Linked DNA regions of Homo sapiens: region 2 is linked to region 1. Evidence: fine-mapped expression QTL. Tissue or cell type: whole blood. Region 1 holds a variant in brackets; the other region holds the start of a gene. All regions are shown on one strand. Distances are between the middles of the regions.

Region 1 (8,189 bases):
GAGTACTAGTTAAGTTACTATTACTCTATACGCCACATTAATTCATTAAATTTAATATTAGGTATGCAGGACAATTGTCATAGCAACATAAATTATTAGCATTACAAGTTCCTAAACAGAAATATGCATAATACTAAAACGAAACTATTTTAAAGGGCAGACATTTATTTTTAATTCTGCAGGATTTCTTTTCAAAAGTGAACTTTGGTGTAGCCTCTGGTCTGGGGCGGAAGATGAGAATGGGAGGGCAGCCTGACCCCCCTCCTGATAAGGAAGGACCCAGCGCATAACCTGTTCAGGATCTGGAGCCGCACAAACACCTGACTCGCCCCTTCAAAACAAGATCCGCGGAATGGCTCGGGACACAACAAGAAATTGCCGGCAACCTGTGACGGCTCATTTTTACCGACAGTGGGAGGCGGGCAGTCGGAAGGAATGCCCATTTCTCCGGTGTTCCTTCCCAGAAGCAAAAGAACGTGTTTGTTTATGCAAGATTTACGTTTCACTCAGGTTTGGGTTGGGTTTGTTTCCTGGAGATGGAGCTGAGTTTCCCTGGTTTTGCTGGAGTGAGGACAAGCTGATCGCTCCGTATTTACCTTTCACTTGAGCCAAATTGGACAAATGCAAATAAACAGGTCTTGCAGGCGCCCCCCGGCAGTCGGCGCCGCCTCCCCGCGCTGGGCTGGGCAGCCGGGGCCCGCAGAGGCAGCCGGCGCCCTAGGGCGGCTGGGGCCGCGCGCCTCCCTGCCCCGCTGCGCGGCCCGCGGGTGCCCGGCCAAGCGCTGGCTTATCTGCAGCTCCCACAGCGCCCCCGCACTCACCAGTTCCTAGAGCAGGGATTCCGAGAAAAAAGAAAGAGCCGGGTTCCCTAGAAACATTAAATTAACACAAGGGATCTGGAAACAAAACAGCAGATGCCTCAAAGCCTTCTCCTTGACGGCTTCCTGCCTTCTTGGAAAATCTTTGCATTAAAATAGATTGAATTACCCTGCTCTGCCAGATGCTGCTCGGGAACTTCATTTTGGGCTAACATGAAAGGAGAGTTTGACATCTTTTAAAGGATTTTTCTTTTCGAGGTGGTTTGAGGGGCGCCTTTGGGTTGCTGACATTAGCAAGGACCCAAGGCTGAGCTTTTTGCATTACAGTCGAGAACTTTCCATAACAATGGCTAGCAAATCAGATAACAAAGATCATGGCGTGTAGAGGAGACGCGGTGGAGCATAGAATGAGCACTAAGGGTTCAGAAGCCGAGGTTGCTGTCTCTGGGAAGAGCCTAGAAAGAGCACAGGCCAGCCGCCTCCTTTTACAGGGGAGAAAATGTCTTTTATTTCTAAGCCTACTTATTTTGACCATAGCTATGAGAACTATCTAATGGCATTTCCAGAGAGTCACAAACAAGCAGAAAGGCTTGTGAGTAGTATTTTATCAGCCTCTTTGTTCTAAAGCCCATCGTCTAACCTCCACCGACCCCTATCTACAAATTAATCAGACCATATAATTTGTAAATTCAAACCCAGATTAATAACCACACACCTTGAACAGTGGGTCTTCAGCACAGAGTGTATTCCACTTTCCTGTCATGTTAACTTTCATATTTAAAGAATTTTGGTAGCTGAGAACAAGATCCAAAGCTTCCTATGAGGTATCAGGATTTTACAGAGTAAATTGTTTTTACTGGAGTAGGATCTTCTTTGACATTTTAACTTTTTTTCATGATAACCTTTAGGAAAGGACGCTATAATCCTTAGTCGCTAATTTATATGTGTCATGCTTTCTAGTAAACTGGAAAATAACCTACATTCTTAAAAGGATTCTATGCTTATCCCAAATTTAGGAGCACAAGATGGGGGAGAAGTATATTACAACAAGATACTCTAAACACAAATAAAATTAAATATCCTTGCCTAAGCATGAAAGCAATAAAACTCATCTTAAAGCAATGCAGTCAGACAAAATCATTGCATCTGTAATAAGGGTAAGTACACAACTCCGGGAGTTAGCAGCCCTAAATATTTCTGTTCTAATGACACACAAGAGATACACAAAATCTATCATTCCTCCCTGATGTACGAAAAAATAAAGGGCAATTTCATAACACCTTTGGTGCTTTCTAACTTAATAGCTGGCCTTCAGGAAAAGCAAGTATAATTTTTGAGTGTTTATAAGAAAGCAAAGGAAAATGTTGCAAAAAATTACTTGGCTCAAAGGCCACAGAGAAAGCCGGAATCTGCAGGACTCACCAAGCTACACAGCTGTTTTAAAACCGAAAGTCAAACAGCTTTTAAAAGGTATTAAGTATTTTCTACAACAAAATCATCAAATATACATACTTCTTTTTATCCTGCAAATAGACATTTTATTTCTATTAGAAAAAAACTATAGTTACACAAACAATAACTAGACTGCTGTAATAAATATAACTAGCCACATAATACTAGTCAACGCTGGCTTTTTAAAAGATTACCAGAGAATTTCAAAATGATTCTGAATGATCAAGTGTGACTCGTATATTTTTTAGGTAGGCATTGATGTTAAGAATATGGCTTTCACAGAAATAGAATCCAATTTATCTTATTTCCATATATTAATCATGGCAACAAATAAAAATGATGACAAAAATCACTAAGATAGTTTCTTTAAATTTTTTTAAATTAAAAACCAAAACCTTAGGTAAATCTGACAATCCTCCCCCAAAATTGGTTTTCGAAAAAAAGTCTTCAGGTCATAGAAAAAATGTAGATGGCTTATAACCCTTAGAATTCCTTTTAGTTAATGAGAATCTCATTTTTGGAATTTCTTCAAACTTAACTGAAATGTTAATGAAAAAGAGAAATATTTAGATGTTGAGAAAAAAAGTTGTTCTAATTATTCTGCTTCACTATCTCATTTCAGCTCATCAAAGTTAAATAGCTAATAAACAACTGGTCTGTTTTGGCAGATTTTTTTTCTATTTTAAAATTCATTACTAAACAGATGAGGTTACTGCTAGTTAAAATTCTGAATCCAAATGCCATACATGCTGTTGTAAAAACTGTGCAGTTTTAAATATATTTTTACTTCTATATATTTTTGAATCTTTAGCCAAACTCCTCCAATAAAGTTTTAGTTTATGATGTTTTCTAAAATAAAAACATTTGTATTTTATGCTATAAAAATCAATAAATGTCTTCTAAAGTTAGGTGCTCCAAAATAAATGATTCAAAAGTTTTAATGAAAGCCCTCTTATAATTAAAGAAGGTGATTGGTAATGAGGAGGAAAATGGGAGGCATATTTACAATAAATCAAAAGCAGAATTGTGATTAATGGGCTCCACAATGATTATTAATGTTCTCCCTATAAAATATTGATGTTTGCATTAATTTAAAAGTACAGACTGGGTTTTTTGCTTTGTTAAATGAAAAATAATTTTTTTCCTATTTTAAAATGAGAATGACTATTTTAAAAACAGAAGACTATGTCCAAGATCTTTCCCTTTCCCCATTTCAAAATTATGAGTTTTCTTTTTGTCTTTCTGAATTCTTGAAATCCAGTGACATTGTCATAGCTCTGAGAACCAAAATAATAGAAACCACTAACTGTAGGAGACAGCCTTGATGCTTTTGATTATATTTTCCTAGAAAGATTTTTATGATATTTAATCTTAATAGCTTTTTTTTTTTAGGAACTCCTCTAATGCCAATAAATGAGAATCTAAATCTCAGGAGTTTAGGCAAATTTAGCCCATCAGCATAGCCTAAAAACAGGATAATTTAATAAAACCTAAATAATACATTAGTTTTTAAATAATATGTTATATACTTTAGATATATATATATATATCCTGTTAAGATTAGTGGGTACCAACCTCATATCTGTATTGGAAATAAGCAGGGTGCAGATTTTTAAAAGGAAAAGAGGCTACACTACTACTCAAAGTCTCCTCAACATTTGGATGCAGGAGAGAAATGGAAAGAAAGTCGAGTTCATCAGGGCTGGTGCCCATCCCATGGCACTACACTTCCTCCTATCCCCTGACCACTGCCAAGTTTGGTCAGGATAGGTGGCTTCGTGTCTCTACATAGTCAGATACCTGTGTATTTTGCTGGGAGAAGGGGAAAAAAAATAAACAAATAAAAATAAAACTCTCTATTCCCAAACTCCCTGCATCCTTTCAAAGTCACATTTTATTAATGGAAATTAAAATGATGAAGAAAGAAACCATTAGTAACCTAAATGATAAGTTTCCCCTTAAAGACACATTTTAACACCAACAAGAGGACTTTCTTCTTTCACTTTCTTCCTTCCTTCCTTTCCTCGTTTCTCTCTCTCCCTCTCTTTCCTTCTTTCTTTCTCCTTCCCTCTCTCTCTTCTCTTTTTCTTTCTAGTCAGAGTTTGTGACTTACTAATTATTTTTATTCTGTTTGAATAGGGTCCCTGTTATCTTTTGTGATTTTCTGAAATGAAGTTAAGATTTCCATTATTTATGAGAATAAAACAGGAGGTTGACACTTTACGCACAAAAAAGAATAACCAAAGGTTACAATGACATCAGTTTTAGTTTTTATTAAGGGCTGGCGTGTGGTGCAGGGGGTGGCGGTGGGAGCGGGGTGAGGCAGGTGTGAGGAATGAGTTTGTTTCTTCCAAGAGAAGGATTTGCTTTGGTCAGTGTTGCTGCAGTCCCAGTGAAGGGGCCTACTCTGCCAGCTCTTCTGGGTAGACTTCATAACAGAGTGGGCAGGCTCAATTCTCTAGGAAGCCTGATG[A/T]TGGCAACTGCATCTCATGGAAGAATTCCACAAAGGGTTAAATTAGGGTGAGATTGTCAACAGGCTTCAAAAAGGCAGAGTTCCAGGGCCCATGCCTGAGGTCTCATGGGCCTCCTTCAGGTCCTCATCCCCACAGTCTGACACTTTTGGCCCTTCTCTTCTCCAGCTCCCCACCCCATTCTTCGGCCAGTCCTTCCTTTTTCCTCTAACCCTGCAAAAAATGAGCAGCGCTGTTGTTTTGTTCCAACTGACAAAACAGCTAAGAAACAGCAGAACATGACTGCCCTTTGCAAAATGGGCCATGTGATCCTCCTAGCTCAATTCAACACTTACAGTAAAAACGAATAGAAAGGGACCTGTTTATGAAACTCTCCTGCTTGCCTTTGGAATACTCTCATCCTCTCCCTTCTCAGCCTCCTAAATACCCAAGTGAATTTATATAATGAGCTTTATTTTATCACCCTGAAATTCTTCCTCAGTCCAAATTGCTAATGTGGCAGGTTCCAGCTGCCCAAATTCCCTAAACAACATTGCCTGTTCCATAAAAAGCATGCAATTACAAGCACAGCAGTCCTGCTCTGGTTCTTAGAACTATAAACTGACTACACAGCTCCCTGGCCCGGGAAGGCTATGAAACAGGCAACATGGACAATTTAAAGGTGTACAACATCCGAGGTTCCATTTCACCCTCAGGCAGCACGGAGTGGACAAGGTAAGGCCACCCTCCACTTTTCTTCTGGCTACTATATTGATTCTCTGGAAACTCTCTCTGCTCCAAAAGAAACCACCCAATCCCATGGAGAAAAGGTGACACTGAATTTGCACTGCTTTTTATGGTTGCATTTGTTTGACTAAGAGGGAGCAGAGTTCCATACAACAGACTGCTTTAGTTGGGTGACTTGAAAATAACACATACCAGATTAGTTCTCCAGATGCAGATTAGTACTAAGTTTGAATCCTTTCTTTTAAATTAATTAATGTAATCTCAATGTTTACATAATAGACATTGACTTTTATCTGGCACATACAGTATATGACTCTGCCTTTAGCAAAAATACCATTCAAGCTATCTTTAGCAGATGTGAATGTTTTATTTTTATTTTGGGGACTCCAAAGAGAGTCCATAACCTACCTTGGCATTGTCAGATCTCAAAAAAAGCTTTCTTCATACTTGCAATATAGTAATATCTAAGTACTTGGACATCTCTGCACAAAATATATGGGTCCACATCTCCCTGTTTTTCCATATACTATTCCCTCTGCAACCTTGTTCACATAGCAAACTCTAATTTATTCTTCAATAGGCAGCCTATGCCACCTTCCCTCAACTATCCCAGACCAGTAGTCATCACTGCCTCCTCTACCCCTTGTACATTTCTCTATGTGGTCTCACCAGAGAAGTACTATGTTTGCTCATATGTCTGGTCTCACCAGACAGTACCATGTTTGCTCAACTCAAAGTTCCTTGAGGAAATAATTGTATTTGTATCTCCAGTGCCTTGCATATTTTGTATCACATAATGAGTTCTATAAAAGAGAACTAAACTGATGTGGCTATGAAATGATTTACAGCTTTTAACTGGAATGAGCCTAGTACAAGACTCACTTAGATGCTGGTGGTTGATCCTAAGTTTCTCATGCTGTTATCTGCAATCATTTGCTCTTGCTCTACATTCAGAAGAGAAAGAAAAACTGGTGACACTAATCTGGCCTCTATATCATAATTAGACCAGGGGTAGGATCTGAGAAACTAGAAAATATTTAGCCTACCCCTAGTCACATCCTAAAAGACATCAATGTGGAACTCAAGGAACTCAGTGGATTTACCAACATTTATCATACCCTATATCCACCCATTATAACTACTTGAATTGTCATGGATGGGAACAGAAGATAGATTTTATTGTGGAGAACAGAATAAATCTAATAAAAGAAATAACTAGAGGAAAAGTTGGGGCTAGTTGACGTTTTTAAGTAGAGATGGGAAAAACATAAATGATGGTGGTCAGCACAGAAAGTTTTGAATATAAGGACTTTAGAAATCAATGTGGTCACTCTTTTCTAGTAATAGGCTGACCATGGACAAAAATAATAGGAACATTATTCCCTAGTTCCTTTGCAATGTACTGTACTGTTATTTAAGCATCCCAGCATCATGCTTGCTTTGATAAATACAAATCTAGCTCAATTGCCATGATTCTGCTTTGAGGCTCTCTCTTTTTTAATGATTTATATGTCATGCTCCCCAAAAGTCTTTCTAAAATTATACCAAAGGGAAAGAAGCAAAAAAAGGGGAGCTTAAATGTTCTGAGGAGCTGTTAGATGTGCCTGGTGCTTGCTATGCACTTCTTTTTGAGACAGAGTCTCCCTCTATTGCCCAGGCTGGAGTGCAGTGGCGTGATCTCAGCTCACTGCAACCTCCGCCTCCAGGGTTCAAGGGATCATCCCACCTCGGCCTCCTACTAGATGGAAATACAGGCCTGAGCCACCACAACCAGCTTGCTATGCACTTTATATACACCATCTATATGTATACCACCCTCCCAACAACTCCACTTGGTAGGAATAATTATTCTCATTTTAAATCAGTTTTAACCTAGGTGTCTCTGGTTCTAGATCTAGTATTTTTTCTACAAATAATACGGTTCCAATTTCTTTCTTTTCTTTCTTTTTGTAGAGATGGGGTCTCACTTTGTCACCCAGGCTGGGCTCAAACTCTTGGCTTCAAGCGATCTTCTCGCCTTGGTCTCCCAAAGTGCTGGGATTACAGGCTTGAACTACTGTACTCGACTGACTTTTCCTATTTCTAATGTCAGCATGAAGAACACAAGAAGTCAGCTTCAAAGGTAAGAGGTGTATCATTCATTCATTCAACATTTATTCCACAGCTACGATGAACCAGGCACTATAGTCTCTTTGAGGATATAAACATAAATAAGTTCTGGGACTCGACTTCAGCTTGCTCACAGTCTAATGGAAAAGAGACATAAAAACAACTTGGTTTATTCTATTTTCCCTAGGCTCTGTATTTGGATCCCCACACCTTGTCACTTTTTGCTGCCACTTTACAAACTTTCCATATCTTAAGAGTTACTCTATCTTTATTTACACATTAGTAAAACACAAGAAACCTGCCCCATTTCGTAAGCTGCCTACACTGCTAAAATCACATCCTAGAGGGAAGTGAGATGGAACAAACCATAAGCATTTGAACTCGCTTGTGCCGCTCTGGGTTTCCATGCTGCCAGGGTGTTTGTTCATTCATTTATTTGCATATTTTGGAGGGCCTACAGGAGGCCCAGTGCTAGCCAGGGAAACAGCGGTGAAAATGACATAACTAGTGTTCTGCCCCCATGGAGCTTACCCTCTAACCTTTACAGGAAGGGGAGGCAGACAGTCAACAAAATCCTGGATTGTGATAGGTGAGTCATTAAGGAAAATCACAG
Region 2 (8,160 bases), 61 kb after region 1:
TAACAAAACCTAGGTTTCCAATTCAGTAAATCCCAATTTAATTTTAGAATTAAAATATTGCCACCAATTAAATTACTTTAAACATGTAAAAAATATTTTAAGTTCTGAAACAAGAGAAGGTGTTAACTATCAAGTTTAAATGCATAATTTCTTCCATTACTTCCACCCTTTCCTTCCCACACACACAAAAAACATATATATCTCTCTCTATATACATATATACATATACACACACACACACCTCTAGAACTTACGGTATACAGGATTTTCAAAAACATATGAAGATTTTAAAAGTGATTTTTAGGAGATAGGAAACTATAAAGTGAAGAAGTGAATGAATGATAAACCCCCAATTCAGGGCTTTTCACTGCGTGGGGGTTGGGAATGAGACAAGATTGGGAAGGAGTGCCCGGGGTTTTTAAAGGCAATCGTAATATTATTTTTCTTAAACTGAGTGATGAGGAGACGGGTGTTCGCTGTACCATTATTCTCCATATCTTACTTATATTTTGTAATATTATTTAAAATAGTCAATATTTAATAAATACAAGTCTTTTTTAAAAGAGTTTATGTGATTGTCACCGTGGAAGGTATTCAAAGACATATATAAATCAAACCCTCACTTCAGAATGTTTTTTTCAATAGCAGTGTTACTCAGTAAAAAGTAAAACAATTAAGATGACTGTACGAATTTGTTCCAGAGCCAACCTTCTACAGAATTAACAAATCTTGAGAAAAACCTTATTTTTCTAAACTTCTACACAGATATGCTCAATTTTTTTCCCATTATGTACTGCTTCATTCTGTTTGCTTTTTTAAAAAGCTATTTTTCCTCAGCTTCTCTGTAACTCTCATCATTTTGTAAAAAATGCCTTAATTCTTTCTAACTCTCTGAATGAATCTGAAGAAATAATGGGGTTATGGCCGAGCATGGTGGCTCACGCCTGTAATCCCAGCACTTTGGGAGGCCGAGGTGGGCGGATCACCTGAGGTCGGGAGTTTAAGACCAGCCTGACCAACATGGAGAAACCCCATCTCTACTAAAAATACAAAATTAGCCGAGCATGGTGGCACATGCCTGTAATCCCAGCTACTCGGGAGGCTGAGGCAGAAGAATTGCTTAAACCCGGGAGGCAGAGGTTGCAGAGAGCCGAGATCGCGCCATTGCACTCCAGCCTGGGCAACAAGAGTGAAACTCCGTCTCAAAAAAAAAAAAATGGTATTATACCTCTACGAATGACATACAACAGCATGATCTGTATCACCCAAAATGACCATAAAATTAAATTCAGTATTTTGATAGTGAAAGGCTTTCAGTTCACCTGTTTTGTTGTTTCCAACTATATGATGCCAGCAGAAACCTCTAAGTCAAATATCAGGAAAACACCAATAATTTTTTAACATTTCTCCAACTCTATGTTATCTATTCTGCTTTCAATAAAGTCATAAAAACATCTAGATACATTTTGTTCAGACATGTGGAGTATTTAATTTTGTAAGGACAATCCAAGCAGTGAATTCCAGTGGTCCTCAAAAGCCAGCTATGTCTAATATTTCAAAAAGCCTAAAGATACATTTAACTGTAACGAGCCCAGACTAGGAATGAAAATACTTTTGCTTTTTCCACTGGGATCTTACCAGGTCTTCCTAAAGTTAGCTGGCTATGTCATGCTGATCAGGTATTCAGACATATGTCAAAATATGAGGTCCATGGAGCAAAAATAGTAAAAGTGGTCTTATTATCAGTATTCATTTTTTTTAACCAGTATTTAAAAAATAGCAACCACGAAGTCTGGGGCCCACTGAACCGGAATAGTTCTATCACTCTTATCAGAAACCCCAGAGAACCTTGATTCTCTAACTTTGTTAAAAATTTGCAAGCCAACTTTCAATTACTTTTTTTTTTCAATTTTTAATTTTTGCCAGTTCAGTTCTCTGCCCCTCTATCTTTGTGAAACAGAGTCAAGGGAGGTTAAGAAAAAGCAAGTGTTTCCATATCACATCTTCTTCCTGCTACAAGCCAGGCTAACAGAACCAGAACTGTTTCTCTCTTCTCCAGCTTCCAATTCTCCTTCAAATTAAACTGAGACCCTCCCCAAACTATTGCTCTTTGCAAAATTAAATACTCCAGTGTCTGAACAAAGCTAAACTAAAAAGGACACTTTAAACGAATAACCTTTAAAAACAAACTAAGTCAGCCTTCAAAATAATCCCCTTTGGCCACACAGGACAGCCCAGGGGACAGGTGCAGGGCATGCCTTCCTAGAGGCTGTCTCCTCCTCCATGAATCTGACCTTTTCCAGCTGGTAGCTCTGGCACCTCACAAATCAGTTGTCAGTAGGCCGAATGCCTGCTTTCCCATCTGCACTTTCCAAATGGCTCCTGATGCCAACGGCTGAGATATGACCTGGCTCTCTGATGAGAACATGCTTCCCAAGTGACATGCCAGGTTTCCTGGAAGCATTTCTAAATGCATTCTCTGAGCTCCCTCCCTCACCTCCCAGTCACGGTTCATTCTTCCTTCCCTGCACTTCCTAATGCCACCTCCTGATCCTATTCCTCCAACGTCATGTCCCTTCAGTCCCAAATCCTTACCCACTTTCATCAACCATTGACCCTTGTCCTGCCTTACATCCCAACTTCAAATCCAAAGGGCATAGTTCTGGCTAGGTGTGGTGGCTCACGTCTGTAATCCCAGCACTTTGGGAGGCGGAGGTGGGTGGATCACCTGAGGTACGGAGTTCGAGACCAGCCTGGCCAACATGATGAAACCCCATCTCTACTAAAAATACAAAACTTAGCAGGGCATGGTGGCAAATGCCTGTATTCCCAGCAACTCGGGAGGCTGAAGCAAGTGAATTGCTTGAACCCAGGAAGCAGAGGTTGCAGTGAGCCGAGATCACACCATTGCACTCCAGCCTGGGCAACAGAGCAAGACTCTGTCTCAAAAACAAACAAACAAATAAACAAAAAAGCAAAGAGCATAGTTACAACATTTTGGAGCTGGTTCAAAGTGATCTTTCTGAGGCCTACCTGCAGGCAGGTCGGTCATGGCCTCTTCCCTTGCCTTCTTCAGCTTCTCCCTGACCCAGGGAAACTCCTGTAGGGAATCTAGGAATGTATCAAATGCTTTAGGGCCCCTGGAAGGTAGGATATCCAGCAGGAGCATTGTTTTCCGGAGGCCTGTGGTTTGAGCATTGATTTCTTGAATATGGTTTTCCGTCAAGATTCCTTCCTGGTAGAGGTACTGAAGAACCAGTCCCTCCACCAATACCTCTGCACCCAGCTCCAGGCGAAGTGAGCGGAGTACTTGTTTGTCTCTGGCCTCCATTTCTCCCTGGAAAGAGCCAAAATCACAGCTCAAATTACAGACATGTTGATGTGGCCCTAAAGACAGTGTCACTGCAATGTAAGTTCCTTCAGGTCAAGCACATCTTTAAACCATAGCAGACTGCCAGGTCATGGTATTTAATTCACTGATTAAGCCAAGCCAGGTTAATTTTGAATGTTTCCTAACATAATGAACAACAATGAAGATGAATCATCTTTTCTGTTTCTGCTTTTCACACAATGGGGTCCCAGCTCAATTCCTCGTTCAATAAAGAAATTTGGAAAAAGAAAAAAAAAAAGTGGGTCAGAGACCCTTCTGAACAAGCAATTTTTATCTGAAGATTACAGAGCAGCACTAATTTTAACACGCTGGAGAAGAAATGGTGGTTTTATTTTCACATTGCCCTCATCAGACCTGCACCACCACCACCAAGGCAGAAACTGCCAAGGTGGACGCAGGTCCCCTTTTTTTGATCACAAGTATTTGCAAAACCTGATCAGTAATAGGAGTGCAGGACAGAAATCAGCAGGTTCAGAATTTAAGGCTCTTTTCGCTAAAAGTCCTCTACACGATCACCTTTAAGAAAATTGTTGTTTGTGCCCAGTCTACAATAAACTTTACACAATATACAGTCACAGACTCCATTCCTTCCCACTAAGAATTCCGAATCTCCAGCACAACACTGTCGTGGCCGCACATGCATGGGACATTTTATGGGATTTTTTTCTTTCAAAAAAAGCACACACCCCAGCACTGGTCAGTAGCCAGGCACGATTTGAAGGTGCAGTTCCACCACCCCTGCACCAGTGTGCTGTGGCTTGGTTGTGTGTAAGGCAGTGAAGGTTAAGTGACCGGGAAGGCAGGCAGGGATGACAGATGGGGCTTCAGACACACCCGGGCAGTACGACCACGGCTAGGCGACACCCGATCCCACACTCCCCCTCGCAACCCTGTAAAGTTCAGGAGGTGACAGGTGAGGAGGGGAGGTGTTCACGTTTGGCCGTGAGCGCCCATTGGGAACTATTTAAAAAGGCTCTGCTTCGGCCGCTGAAACCCTTGTATCAAACAGGAAGACTACGGGCGGTTTCTGCGGCAACTTGACCCGCTAAAGAGGGAGTGCTGGGAATGAACTAAAGAGCGGACCAAGGGGAGAGCGGGCCTCCGGCACTGCCGCAGCCACCCAGCCTTGGCCCGGATCGGAAATGCGGAGCAAGTTAGCGGGGCGGGGAAGCCCCCGCAGGGCCCAGGTCGCAGACGCTACAATGCAGGACTTTCAAAGAAAGATGGATTCCTGTTACTTACGTCTGCAACCACGTATCTTTGGGGCGGGGGAGAAAAACTGCAACCGGAATCCTGACTGTTAGGGAACCTGCCCCATAAGCACCATCTTTGTTAATGGCGAAAACCCTAAACAGGAAGTGTTGACACCATCTTTGTTGAGGGCAAGTACAGGAAGTGCTGTCGCCATTTTTATTGAGCGTTCAAGGGTCGGATCGAAGCTCTTCCCGCCATGCTTACTGTGGGTAAACAATTCAATAGCGGGGAGATGGACAACCGTAGTGTCACTTAAAGGGTATCTAAGTAATGGAGTAATTGAATCATTGCATTTTAACACAGTAACTCCATCAGGGCCTCGCACACAATTGACCTAACAGAGAGGCAGGTCAAAAGCCACCCTAGTAGAGAAGCCTTCTCTGACCTATCTGATTAAAACGGCAAGACAGCTGCGCTCATTTCCTGCACTCCCCATTAACCAGCTTTATTTTTTACGCATCACCATCTTATTAAAACTTTTCACTTATTCATTTGTTTATCCTTCTGCTTCCCTCCATTAAAATGCAAGGTCATTTATTTATATCAAGGGTTCCTGCCCGCAAAGAGTTTACAAATCTGTCAGTCAGGATTTCATTGCAGCACTCAGCTAGTTACTCCTAGTCAGAAAGGGATTCGTTAGGGGGAATTGGGGACATTCGAAATCATTGGAAAGGCTGGAGAAGGGCTGAGCTGAACATCCATGGATGACTACCTAGATAAGATTGCTGATTGTGGCTGCTGCCCACAATCAGGAAGATGGCGTCAGGAAGTTGCCATGCCTGGTCCCCAACCTCCTCTCAACACCGACAGAACAATTAACAGGACACTGGAACAGTGCTGCAAAAAACGGTGGTCTCCACGGCTGCATTTGCCAGCAGCAAGAAAACAGCACCTGCAAATCTTGCTTTGCTGCGTGCCATTGGTGAGACCAATCTGACATGCAGAATATTAGCAGCAAGGATGTCTAGAGCATGTAGTTGGTAGCTTTCCAGCTTGTGAAACACAAAAAGGTATAGTAAATGAGGGAAGGCCTGACACTTAAAGCCAATCTACTGCATCCACCACATTTTCAATGTGGAAAGCAAGAAAAAATGCATGACCCAAATACAGAGAAACACAGCAATGCCAAATTGGGTGTCCTTCCTCACATTCCTTTGTGAAGCGAGGCAGGCGATCAATAAATACATTCATTGATTCATTTTTAAATCAATTGGATGATACATACAGAAAGTCATATGCTTACTAAAAATCAGTTGACAGTACAGGGGGAAAAAACTCCTAAAATATTATTTCTGCAAAGGTTTTCACAGCCAAACCCTTTGGTGGAAAATGAAAATATCTTTGTTAAGCAAATCAATGGAGAACAGTTCTGAACCTCCCTCCTCAAAACCTTCTAAAAATTGTATTCAATTTACAGCATTACTATGCCAGTTACCATTTTACTACACCGTTAATGACAGTATTTTTACCTATGTGGCAAGTATTATTATTATTACAGTCATGCATTGCATAACAATATTTGGGTCAATGACAGACTGCATATATGATGGTGGTCAGAGCAATAGGCTATGCTATATGGCCTAAGTATGTAGTAGGCTATACCATCTAGGTTTGCATAAGTACATCCTATTTTGTTTGCACAATGACACATTTTTCACAATGTATCTCCACTGTTACAACTGTTTTAGCATTTGCATGTATAAAGACTGTGGAATCAGAATGGTCAATTGTCTTAGGCAAAATCTCACAGCTAATATAGAGCAAAACTTGAAGTCTAATGAAGTTTCTCTGATTTCATGCTCTTTCCAATACACCATACAACCTTGTATAGTGAAGAGTTTATTGTTCTAATGATAGCCAAATATTATTTGCAAATCATCCTGTTGCCACCTCCCATTCTTGATACTCTTGAGTTCCAGGTGCTCTCTTTTCTCTCTCCCTTTTCCCCTTTTGCTTGAGAATCATTGTCCTTTCCTCAGCAAGATTTCCCATCTGTTCATAGACAAATGTTAGCACCATTCTTTGTCTTCATCCAGATAAAGTGCAGACCACTTGCAACACTGCCAAGCGTTGAAGTTTACAGGTTAAACATCCCTAATACAAAAATTTGAAATCCAGAATCCTCCAAAACCTGCCTGAGAGTGGTGGCTGACACCTGTAATCTCAGCATTTTGGGAAGCCAAGGCAGGCAGATCGTTTGAGCCCAGGAGTTCAGGGCCAGCCTGGGCAACATAGGGAAATCCCATCTCTACAAAAAATACAAAAAATTAGCCAGCCATGCTTGTGTACGCCTGTAGTCCCAGCTTCTCAGGAGGCTGAGGTGGAGAATCAATTGAACCCGGGAGGTGGAGTTTGCAGTGAAACAAGATCATGCCACTGCACTCCGGCCTGGGCGACAGAGAGAGACCCTGTCTCAGAAAAAAAAAAAAAAAGAAAGAAAAAGAAATGCTCCAAAACCTGAAGCTTTTTGGGTGTCAACATGACGCCACAAGTGGAAAATTCCACACCTGACCTTATGTGATGGGTCTCAGTCAAAACACAAACCTTTGTTTCATGTGCAAAATTATTTAAAATATTGTATAAAGTTACTTTCAGGCTATGTGTATAAAAAGTATATATGAAACATAAGTTTTGTGCTTAAACTTGGGTCCCATCCCCAAGTTACCTCATTATGTATATGCAAATATTCCAAAATCCCAAAAAATCCAAAATCCAAAACACTTCTGGTCCCAAGCATGTTGGGTAAGGGATCATCAACCTATACTAACTTTTTTAGAGAGGAAAAGCAAGTGGATTTTTTTCTAACTGTGAACTTCGATAAATTTCAAACATATAGGAAAGTTGAAACAAATAGCGCAATAAACGCCCATATAAAGTTTCATATTTCTTGATGACTCATCATATTTGGAAAGGCTTGAGATCTCCTAGAAGCTAGAAGGTGAGCCTTGATGATGATGCCCAGGAGGAGGTGGGGAACCAACAATAGGATCCGTGAGGGTTCACAGAAGAGAAGCAGCCAGAGACAGCAGGAGAGTGTCAGGGCAGCAGCCGAGGGGCATGGCGTCCTATGGTAAACAACCTGAAAGGGTGGCCATTAAAGATCTGACTTAAATCTGCAGCGTGAAGTCTTTAATCATCGAATGCCTCTTCCCATGGCAAATACAGATGAGGATCCATGCTGTCTCTTAAGCAACTAGGCTGAACGACTAGCCCACTGCCATCAGCCACCCCACCTCAGCATACAGCGATACTTCATGGCAGTACACCAAAGACCCAACTTTACTTAGACAGATTAGCTAAGGCCAGAGGGCTTCTAAGGAATGGAACACAGATCAGAATCATTATCACAGGTGGTTACTCCTCCGCTCTGGCCAGACCCTCTGTAATCTGAAATTGTGCCCCCACGGAGGATTAAGCACCTGTTACCCAGTGGTAACGAATCCACAGGAAGGACAGATATTTTCATTTTTCTCTCTCCCCTAGTATGTTTACTTGTGTCAAGATATCCCTATTGT

Evidence for each region. PIP is the estimated chance that this variant, and not a neighbour inherited with it, causes the effect.
Region 2: it holds the start of CRADD, and the variant in region 1 is fine-mapped to the expression of CRADD in whole blood (TOPMed, PIP above 0.99).

The regions. Positions count from the first base shown.
Region 1 is chr12:93,734,965-93,743,153 of GRCh38, reverse strand. The region is part of intron 2 of CRADD (CARD and death domain containing adaptor protein); the gene reads right to left. It overlaps CRADD-AS1 (CRADD antisense RNA 1), which reads left to right and starts at 5,331. Exons shown (of 3, transcript NR_110092.1): 1 at 5,331-5,455; 2 at 7,421-7,589. RefSeq lists silencers at 547-636, 667-836 and enhancers at 1-879, 880-1,836. The variant A/T (reference allele first, on the strand shown) is at 4,744.
Region 2 is chr12:93,673,946-93,682,105 of GRCh38, reverse strand. CRADD (CARD and death domain containing adaptor protein) reads right to left here and starts at 4,731. Exons shown (of 3, transcript NM_003805.5): 1 at 4,634-4,731; 2 at 3,034-3,337. The coding sequence starts at 3,331. RefSeq lists enhancers at 2,229-3,043, 3,860-4,674, 4,647-4,886, 4,675-5,490.